Linked DNA regions of Homo sapiens: region 2 is linked to region 1. Evidence: fine-mapped expression QTL. A gene starts in region 1. The other region holds a variant in brackets. All regions are shown on one strand. Distances are between the middles of the regions.

Region 1 (5,478 bases):
TGCCCGGCAGAGACATAACAAAAAAGAGAATTTTAGGCCAATACGCCTGATGAACATTGATGTGAAAATTCTCAATAAAATACTGGCAAACCGAATCCAGTGGCACATCAAAAAGCTTATCCACCACAATCAAGTTGGGTTCATCCCTGGGATGCAAGGCTGGTTCAACATACACAAATTGATAAACGTAATCCATCACATAAACAAAACCAATGACAAAAACCACATGATTATATCAATGCAGAAAAGGCCTTCGACAAAATTCAGCAGCCCTTCATGCTAAAAGCTCGCAATAAACTAGGTATTGATGGAACGTATCTCAAAATAGTAAGAGCTATTTATGACAAACCCACAGCCAATATCATACTGAATGGGCAAAAACGGGAAGCATTCCCTTTGAAAACCAGCACAAGACAAGGATGCCCTCTCTCACCACTCCTATTCAACATAGTGTTGGAGGTTCTGGCCAGGGCAATCAGGCAAGAGAAAGAAATAAAGGGTATTCAATTAGGAAAAGAGGAAGTCAAATTTTCCCTGTTTGCAGATGACATGATTGTATATTTAGAAAACCCCATTGTCTCAGCCCAAGATCTCCTTAAGCTGATAAGCAACTTCAGCAAAGTCTCAGGATACAAAATCAATGTGCAAAAATCACAAGCACTCCTATACACCAATAACAGACAATAACAGAGAGCCAAATCATGAGTGAACTCCCATTCACAATTGCTACAAAGAGAATAAAATACCTAGGAATCCAACTTACAAGGGATGTGAAGGACCTCGTCAAGGAGAACTACAAACCACTGCTCAGTGAAATAAAAGAGGACACAAACAAATGGAAGAACATTCCATGCTCATGGATAGGAAGAATCAGTATTGTGAAAATGGCCATACTGCCCAAGGTAATTTATAGATTCAATGCCATCCCCATCAAGCTACCAAAGACTTTCTTCACAGAATTGGAAAAAACTACTTTAAACTTCATATGGAACCAAAAAAGAGCCCGCATTGCCAAGACAATCCTAAGCAAAAAGAACAAAGCTGGAGGCACCACGCTACCTGACTTCAAACTATACTACAAGGCTACAGTAACCAAAACGGCATGGTACTAGCACCAAAACAGATATATAGACCAACAGAACAGAACAGAGGCCTCAGAAATAACACCACACATCTACAACCATCTGCTCTTTGACAAATTGACAAAAACAAGAAATGGGGAAAGGATTCCCTATTTAATAAATGGTGCCAGGAAAACTGGCTAGCCATATGTAGAAAGCTGAAACTGGATCCCTTCCTTACACCTTATACAAAAATTAATTCAAGATGGAGTAAAGACTTAAATGTTAGACCTAAAACCATAAAAACCCTAGAAGAAAACATAGGCAATACCATTCAGGACATAGGCATGGGCAAAGACTTCCTGACTAAAACACCACAAGCAATGGCAACAAAAGCCAGAATAGACAAATGGGATATAATTAAACTAAAGAGCTTCTGCATGGCAAAAGAAACTACCATCAGAGCGAACAGGCAACCTACAGAATGGGAGAAAATTTTTGCAATCTACCCATCTGACAAAGGGCTAATATCCAGAATCTACAAAGAACTTAAACAAATTTACAAGAAAAAAAACAAACAACCCCATCAAAAAGTGGGCAAAGGATATGAACAGACACTTCTCAAAAGAAGACATTTATGCAACCAACAGACACATGAAAAAATGCTCATCATCACTGGTCATCAGAGAAATGCAAATCAAAACCACAATGAGATACCATCTCATGCCAGTTAGAATGGCGATCATTAAAAAGTCAGGAAACAACAGATGCTGGAGAGGATGTGGAGAAAGAGGAACACTTTTACACTGTTGGAGGGAGTGTAAATTAATTCAACCATTGTGAAAGACAGTGTGGCGATTCCTCAAGGATCTAGAACTAGAAATACCATTTGACCCAGCCATCCCATTACTGGGTATATACCCAAAGGATTATAAATCATGCTGCTATAAAGATACATGCACACGTATGTTTATTGTGGCACTATTCACAATAGCAAAGACTTGGAACCAACCCAAATGTCCATCAATGATAGACTGGATTAAGAAAATGTGGCACATATACACCACGAAATACTATGCAGCTGTAAAAAGGATGAGTTCATATCCTTTGCAGGGACATGGACGAAACTGGAAACCATCATTCTCAGCAAACTATCACAAGGACAGAAAACCAAACACCGCATGTTCTCATAGGTGGGAATTGAACACTGAGAACACTTGGACAAAGGGCGGGGAACATCACACACGGGGGCCTGTCGGGGACTGCGGGGCTGGGGGAGGGATAGCATTAGGAGAAATACGGAATGTAAATGACGAGTTGATGGGTGCAGCAAACCAACATGGCACACGTATACCTATGTAACAAACCTGCACGTTGTGCACATGTACCCTAGAACTTGAATAAAAAAAAAAAAAAAAAAGAAAAATTACTTGACATATCTTGACATTTTAGGCTCCCAGGATTTTACAGTATTCTTAACAGGTTTTGTCAGCAAAATCAACCCCCACCCCCGCATCAGTTTAAGAGCCCTGGAAGGCTCTGCCTATTCACCAGCATAGAGCTGAGATCCTTAAAGGGCCAGTTCAGGGCACTGCTCCAGCAACCGTTGCGCTGCTATAAGCTTGAGCACATCTCTTGCCCCTCCTCTCTACTTTTATAGATCCTGCATTTATTTAGCATATAATCTTTTCAATATTGACTTTGTATATGTATGTCTTCCCCTAAACTGGATGTATCTTTTAAGGAAAAGCCTGGGGTTCGTCATCCCCCTATGTATCACCTTTACAGGCGGTCACCCAAAATCTCCACATTCATCATAGAAACAGAAATTCCACTAATAAATGTCAGGTACTGCCTCCTTAACCTTGGTCCGCTATTTCCCTCCCACTTTCAGCAGTCTGGTTTATTCCATGGGTGGAAGAGGAAGCCAAGTTGGCTGAGTGTGAAGGGAATGGCGTCAGTGTGACTTCACGCCACATCGTCCCGAATGCCAGCTCCACACTGCGGTGGCACGAACGCAGGATTGAGAGATGCAGCTGGAGTAAAGAGAGAAGCCCATGTCCCTCAGACGCCACACAAAATGGGGGTAACCGCGAGAACAAAGCAGGGTACCCAACGGGGTGTGGCGGGACACCTGGGCGCACGCCGCCAGCGCCCGGGAGAGCGAAGGCGGGGAGAGAGGAACCACGCTGAGGCGTGGCAGGATGGGGGCGGGACTTCCGGAAGCCATTTGGCTGAGTGGCAGGGGAACCGGAAGTGGAGGAGCTGCTGCTGGTGCTGGGGCCGGAGGAGGGACGCGCCGGAGCGGGACCGACGGGACCGAGCGAGCGACCGACGCGCCACCCGCCGACGCCTCAGCCGCTTGGGGCCCGCACGGACCCTCTACTTCAGTGAGTGCATCCAGGGTCGCAGGGAACCGGTGGCTTAGAGGCGGGGGTCGGAAGGGGCTGCGAGGTGTTATTGTGAGAGGCCCGCGACCTCCCCTCCCCCACCCTTGCGGCCCCTCCCCCCACGCCGCCCCATCCACTTGGGGGGGGCCTCGCGAGCGCGCGCCTTCTCTGCGGGCCCAGCGTCGGCTTCCCAGCAGCCGGCGCAGCTAGTTTTCGCTCTGAGAGCCCTTTCCCGATATTCCATACCGAAAGCTGGCGTTTCTCCTCAGCCGCCGGCCGGCGCCTCCACGGCCTTTCCCAGGAGGGTAGCGCGGCGGGCGCCCCGCCCCGCCCTGCCCTGCCCTGCCCTGCCGGGCCCACCCGCGGTAGGCCTTGCGCACCCCAGCTCGCCCCGGCTGGGCGCTGCAGCTCCTGCCCGGGTCTCCGCTGCTGCCTTTTCCCTTTATCACAGGGGTCTAACTTCTCACTCTTCTCTCCCCTCGCGTCTGGTCGGAGGCCAAAACCAGTTACTCCGTTGTGTTTTTACCGAGCACTTTTCCCTCCTCCTTTTGTTGAAAAATTTCAACTCTTTAGAAACTTCTCCGTTGCCTCTTAGGATGTGTTTATTCAAAAGTTGCATAGACCGTCACCACTCGGAAGGGATTATTTCTTGGAAGGCTTTCCAGCCCCCATCTCATCTTAGACATGAATGTGCTCGGAGCGGCTGGTGACCTGCCCAAGGTCAGCCAGCTAGATAAACCTGTCAGCGGAGAGGTTTGGGGGGATGTTTTTTTCCTGGCTCACCGTCCGTTTGCCAGATCCGTGCCTTCTGGTCTACAGGTTTGATTGACCCGTTGCGTGGTGACTCATGCTTCTGCTTTTCATAGCTCGCAGGCCAGCGTTGCTTTTCAGAATTTATACACAAACAAGAACTAACACTCGGAGCTTTCGCCTCTTTGTAGAGCTTACCCGTAGAGAAAGGAAAGACCACCCGGATCCACCCTAGGACCTCATTTTGTACAGCTTGAAATTATGGGAAGGGGTTGGGCCGGGGGTAAAGGTGTGGAGAAAGTGGAAGGAGAAAGTGCTTAATTAAGATTGTCTTTGCCTTGGATGTGCCTTGTGTCTTTGGCTTCTTCTGGGCACATTGTTCTGACATAAAGGTTGCCTCCTTGTGGGGGAGAAGGGGAGGATTAGTTTGTTGGCTTGGGCATTTGATCATAAATTATGGAGGTGCTGGACCGGAGGAACCACCCACCAGCCCACGGAGGCTACCGGGCATTCAGGATAAGGGCCGCCTTCTTCTTCAGAATAACCATACCCACTCCCTCTGAAACAAAGTGGAGAGTCTTAGGTCTGAGTGGAAACTCTAAATCTTTTAATTCTTGGTTCAACTTTCTTCATCTGTTTTCCTGGTTCAGACTAAAACATCTAACTCAGCTGGAGAAGTTATAACGCTTTGTTGTTGGACGTGGTTTCTCATTAAATACATTGCACTATGCTGGTATAAGCACTTGGAAATTCTAGTGCTGTATTGTCATAGTAAGTAGAGAATATAGAAAAGGCAGGAAAATCGTGCAAGTCGGTTACTCCTCGTCTTCCCAGAGAACTCACTTTAATGGACAACAAAGCTTCCCCTGGAGTACAGTCTGTTGTGGCAAATTAACAAAACTTGTTCTTCAGACCTTTTATTTGCATTCTGCTTGGTCTTTCTTTCTTTTTTTTTTTTTTTTTTTGTGTGTGTGACGGAGTCTCAGTCTGTCGCCCAGGCTGGAGTGCAGTGGCGCGATCTCTACTCACTACAACCTCTGCCTCCCGGTTCAAGCTTATAGGCATGTGCCACCACACCCAGCTAATTTTGTATTTTTTTTTTTTAGTAGAGACGGGGTTTCGCCACGTTGGCCAGGCAGGTCTTGAACTCCCGACCTCAAGTGATCCACCCGCCTCGGCCTCCCAAAGTGCTGGGATAACAGGCGCAGGAAACCCAAAGTCACTCAGAAGTTTGCGTCTTACCACTGGGTAGCTCTTAGTTCGTTCTTATTTTATGT
Region 2 (5,000 bases), 20 kb after region 1:
TAGTGAATTGTTTGCCTATTGGGTTGTATTTATAGTTGTTATAATTACTTTCTTAAGTTGAAGGAAGAGTTTTTTTTTTTTTTGAGATGGAGTCTTGCTTTGTCACCCAGGCTAGAGTGCAGTGGTGTGATCTCAGCTCACTGCAACCTCCGCCTCCTGGGTTCAAGCGATTCTCCTGCCTCAGCCTCCCGAGTAGCTGGGATTACAGGCGCCGCCACTGTGCCCAGCTAATTTTTGTATTTTTGGTAGAGATGGGGTTTCACCATCTTGGCCAGGCTGGTCTTGAACTCATGACCTTGTGATCCACCCGCTTCGGCCTCCCAAAAGTGCTGGAGAATTACAAGCATGAGCCACCGCGCCTGGCTGAAGGAAGAGATTTGATGCTAACGAGGTATGCTATTCTGTGGAATGCATAGATCTCGGGCAGTATGAGGGAAAACTGCTCAGAGGTGGGCCATGGGAGCAGGGCCATGATTAACTTTAGGAAGTAATTTTGGATCTGTTTAACCATATAAACAGGTCAGTAATCGAGGCCTGCAAGTTCATCTGAAGAAAATTAGAAGCAGATGTGAACAAATGAACATTTCTACCCAGTATCTTATATCATAAATACTCTGAGTTGGCACACTGTATATAATTGTTTCAGCTCCCAAAAAAGAACAAAAACTGAGCCCTGACAAAACGTGCTTTCATTGAAAGTTGTTTGTTTTAAGACAGGTTCTCTCTGTTGCCCAAACTAGAATGCAGTGGCATGATTATAGCTCACTGTAACCTCAAACTGTTGGACTCGGATGATCCTATGGCCTCAGCCTCCCAAATAGCTAGGACTGCAGGCATGTGCCACCATGCTTAGCTAATTTTTAAATTTCTTTTTGTAGACAGGGTCTTGGTCTTGTTATGTTGCCTAGGCTGGTGTCAAACTCCTGGCCTCAGATGATGATCCTCCCGCCCCGGCCTCCTAAAATACTGGGATTATAGGCTTGAGCTACCATGCGAGACTGTGATTTTTTTTTTTTTTCTCTAAAGAGAAAAACTTGATGGATCAGCGTGGTGGGTTATGCCTGTAATCCTAGCACTTTGGGAGGCTGAGGCACGCAGATCACTTGAGGCTAGGAGTTCACGACCACCCTGGCCAGCATGGTGAAACCCTGTCTCTAGATTTAAAAAAAAAAAAAAAAAGCCAGGCATGGTGTCACACACCTTAGGAAGCTGAGGCAGGAGAATCACTTGAACCCATGAGATGGAGGTTGCAGTGAGCCAGGATCACACCACTGCACTCCAGCCTGGGTGACAGAGGAAGACTCCGTTTCAAAAATAAATAAATAGAAAAATTTGTTAAAGTTGCATCCAGCCTCCACCTCTGTGACTCTTTTCCTTGAGTGTACCTGTGTATTTATACCGTGACAGGTTCTTGCTGTGTCACCCAGGCTGGAGTGCAGTGGCATGATCATGGCTTACTTGCAGTCTTGAACTCCTGGGCTGAATCAATCTTCCCACCTCAGTGTCCCAAAGCATTGAGATTATAGATGTGACCCACTGTGCCTGGCCAGGTTTTATTTTTATACAGTTTATTAATCTTTTTTGTATAATTTTTGGATTTTGAGAAATCAGCTTCCTGCTGCATGATGATATAATTCTCTCTTGTTTCCTCCTAGTACAATTTTACCACTTAAATATTATTCCCCTTGGAATTTATCCTGATATATGATAGGAGGCATAAATCGATGCATTAAGATTTCTGCCCTGGCTCAACATTTGTAGTCCCAGCATTTTGGGAGGCCAAAGAAAGATGGATTGAGCCCAGGAGTTTAAGACCAGCCTGGGCAATATAGCATGACCCTCTATCTCTTAAAAGAAAATTTAATAGGATAGCTGCCCAGTTGAAGTTAGCCAACACCATTTGAAAAGTTTATCTTTCCTTCTTTGCTTTTTGAAATAAGATTTTCGGCCGGGCGTGGTGGCTCACACCTGTAATCCCAGCACTTTGGGATGCCAAGGTGGGTGGATTACCTGAGGTCAGGAGTTTGAGACCAGCCTGGGCAACGTGGTGAAACCCTGGTCTCTACTAAAAATACAAAAATTAGCTGGGCGTGGCGGCACATGCCTGTAGTCCCAGCTACTCGGGAGGCTGAGGCAGGAGAATCACTTGAACCTGGGAGGCGGAGGTTGCAGTGAGCCGAAATGGTGCCACTGCACTCCAGTCTGGGTGATAGAGCGAGACCCCATCTCAAAAAAAAAAAAAAAAAAGATTTTCATCTAAATGTTGGACGTTCCTTTGTTCCTGGGTATTTATCTTCTCCTTCCCCCCTTTTTTCTTCAATTGCAGGTCATTGTTGTCTGGGTAGGAACAAATAACCACGAAAATACAGCAGAAGAAGTAGCAGGTGGGATCGAGGCCATTGTACAACTTATCAACACAAGGCAGCCACAGGCCAAAATCATTGTATTGGTATGTAGTCGTTGGTGGGTAGAGAGTTTGTTATCTTTAGGTCAGCTGAGGAATCTTTTTAGAAATGTGATTGCTCATGAATATTAGAGAACCTTGAGGTGGAAGCAGTTTATCATACTTTCGTTGACCTCTTCTTTAATGTATTTTACTGTCTTACTGGTTTCATCATTCCCCATACCAGCTGTGGGGCCATCTTTTATCCACGCATCCTTGTTTAGAAGTATGGAAGCCGTGGCCAGGCGCTGTGGCTCACGCCTGTAATCCCAGCACTTTGGGAGGCCAAGGTGGGCGGATCACGAGGTCAGGAGATCAAGTCCATCCTGGCTAACACGGTGAAACCCTGTCTCTAATAAAAATACAAAAAATTAGCCGGGTGTGGTGGCAGGCGCCTGTAGTCCCAGCTACTCGGGAGGCCGAGGCAGGAGAATGGCGTGAACTTGGGAGGCAGAGCTTACAGTGAGCAGAGATTGTGCCACTGCACTCCAGCCTGGGTGACAGAGCGAGACTCCGTCTCAAAAAAAAAAAGTATGGAAGCCGTTTGGTGCCTCAGTACTCCTTTTTTTGGCCTCCATAATTTTTTGCACAATGGCACATGAGATTTGTCTGAATCCTGAGTCTTTTTAT[T/C]AGACCTATATTTGGATTACTTTGTAAGTGTCCTGTTTTACTGCTAATATGTTAAAGGTGGTATATTAGACATTCTAATCTTCTCTAAAACATAAAAAATTTCATCAGCAAGAAAATGGATACTTTATAGTTGTACCCTGAACAGAAAGGTGCTACCCTTTTGTAGAATTAAAGCATTAACTCTTCATGGTCTCAAAGGTGAACAGCTGTCTGTTTCAGTATAAAAGTCTAGCTGTAGGCCGGGTGTGGTGGCTCACGTCTGTAATCCCAGCACTTTGGGAGGCCGAGGCGGGTGGATCACAAGGTCAGGATTTCAAGACCAGCCTGGCCAAGATGGTGAAACTTCGTCTCTACTAAAAATACAAAAAAATTAGCTGGGCGTGGTGGCACGTGCCTGTAATCCCAGCTATTCGGGAGGCTGAAACAGATAATTTCTTTTTTCTTTTTTTTTTTTTTTGAGACAGAGTCTCGCTCTGTCGCCTAGGCTGGAGTGCAGTGGCATGATCTCGGCTCACTGCAAGCTCGGCCTCCCAGGTTCACACCATTCTCCTGCCTCAGCCTCCCGAGTAGCTGGGACTACAGGCGCCCGCCACCACACCCGGCTAATTTTTTGTATTTTTAGTAGAGATGGGGTTTCACCGTGTTAGCCATGGTCTCGATCTCCTGACCTCGTGATCTGCCTGCCTTGGCCTCCCAAAGTGCTGCGATTACAGACGTGAGCCATCACGCCTGGCTGAAGCAGAGAATTTCTTAAACCTGGGAGGTGGAGGTTGCAGTGAGCCGAGATCGTGCCACTGCACTCCAGCCTGGGCAACAGAGCAAAACTCGGTCTCAAAAAAAAAAAAAAAATGTCTAGCTGTAGATATTCTTAGTCAGTTTGAAACATGTTTTAGCAAAATCTGATACAAATTTAGTTCTTTAGTGAGATGGTGTTAGGAAGATAGTCATTTACTCAAAAAACCTGAGGATCACTGTGTACAAGGCACTATCCTAGTTCTTGAGCATACAAAAATGAGTAAGACATAGTTTCGGTCTCAAGGAGCTCACAGTCTAGTGTATGGAGACAGCAACACAGAATTATTATACTGTGTGCTGTTTAGAGTAAGGTGAAAACGTGTTTAACAAAAGTTGACATCTGCATTCAAAGACTTCATTGGTTTCCAGACAAATAGGGAAAGAAGGAAGGTATTATAGAAAAATAAAGAGAATTGAGCAAAGGCTTGTACATGTATGTGTTTGTTGGGTGAGCAGAGGAGGCTGCATAAAGTTTGAGCCTGGGATGGTTAGGAGAAGGAGGCCACAACCAGGTCATGTAGGATTTTTTTTTTTTTTTTTTAATTTGAGATGGAGTCTCGCTCTACTGCCCAGGCTGGAGTGCAGTGGCGTGATCTTAGCTCACTGCAACCTCCGCCTCCCGGGTTCAAGTGATTCTTCTGCCTCAAATCCCAAGTAGCTGGAACTACAGGTGCATGCCACCATGCCCGGCTAATTTTTGTTTGTTTTTAGTAGAAACGGGGTTTCACCATATTGGCCAGGCTGGTCTCGAACTCCTGACCTCGTTCGTGATCTGCCCGCCTCATCCTCCCAAAGTGCTGGGATTACAGGCGTGAGCCACTGCGCCAGACCAGGTCATGTAGGAATTCATATGCTGTTGGGATGTTTGGATTTTATCCACAGTTGCTGGGGGGCCAGATCTTTTTTATTACAAGGCATTTCATTTACTTGTTGAGGTACTTATTTATACCTGCCTTATTCCAGAAAGGATTGTGTTAAGAGTCCACCTGTTAAGTACAGTGACTAGTACATAGTATTTGCTTAGGAAATATTTGTTGTATGAATGTTGCTCAATAAGCCTTCCATATTCTTTGTTTTTAAATTGGATATACAAAAGTGTTAATTATGGTGTTGTCCATAATACTAAAACTTT

Evidence for each region. PIP is the estimated chance that this variant, and not a neighbour inherited with it, causes the effect. A credible set is the group of variants that fine-mapping cannot tell apart.
Region 2: its variant is the best candidate, but not a certain one, in a credible set for the expression of PAFAH1B2 in whole blood (TOPMed, PIP 0.75).

The regions. Positions count from the first base shown.
Region 1 is chr11:117,140,968-117,146,445 of GRCh38, forward strand. It overlaps PAFAH1B2 (platelet activating factor acetylhydrolase 1b catalytic subunit 2), which reads left to right and starts at 3,320. Exons shown (of 6, transcript NM_002572.4): 1 at 3,320-3,451. RefSeq lists a silencer at 3,530-3,849 and an enhancer at 4,400-4,579.
Region 2 is chr11:117,161,444-117,166,443 of GRCh38, forward strand. It overlaps PAFAH1B2 (platelet activating factor acetylhydrolase 1b catalytic subunit 2), which reads left to right. Exons shown (of 6, transcript NM_002572.4): 5 at 2,327-2,449. Among named protein-coding and RNA genes, the nearest start is that of SIDT2, 15 kb to the right of the region's middle. The variant T/C (reference allele first, on the strand shown) is at 3,074.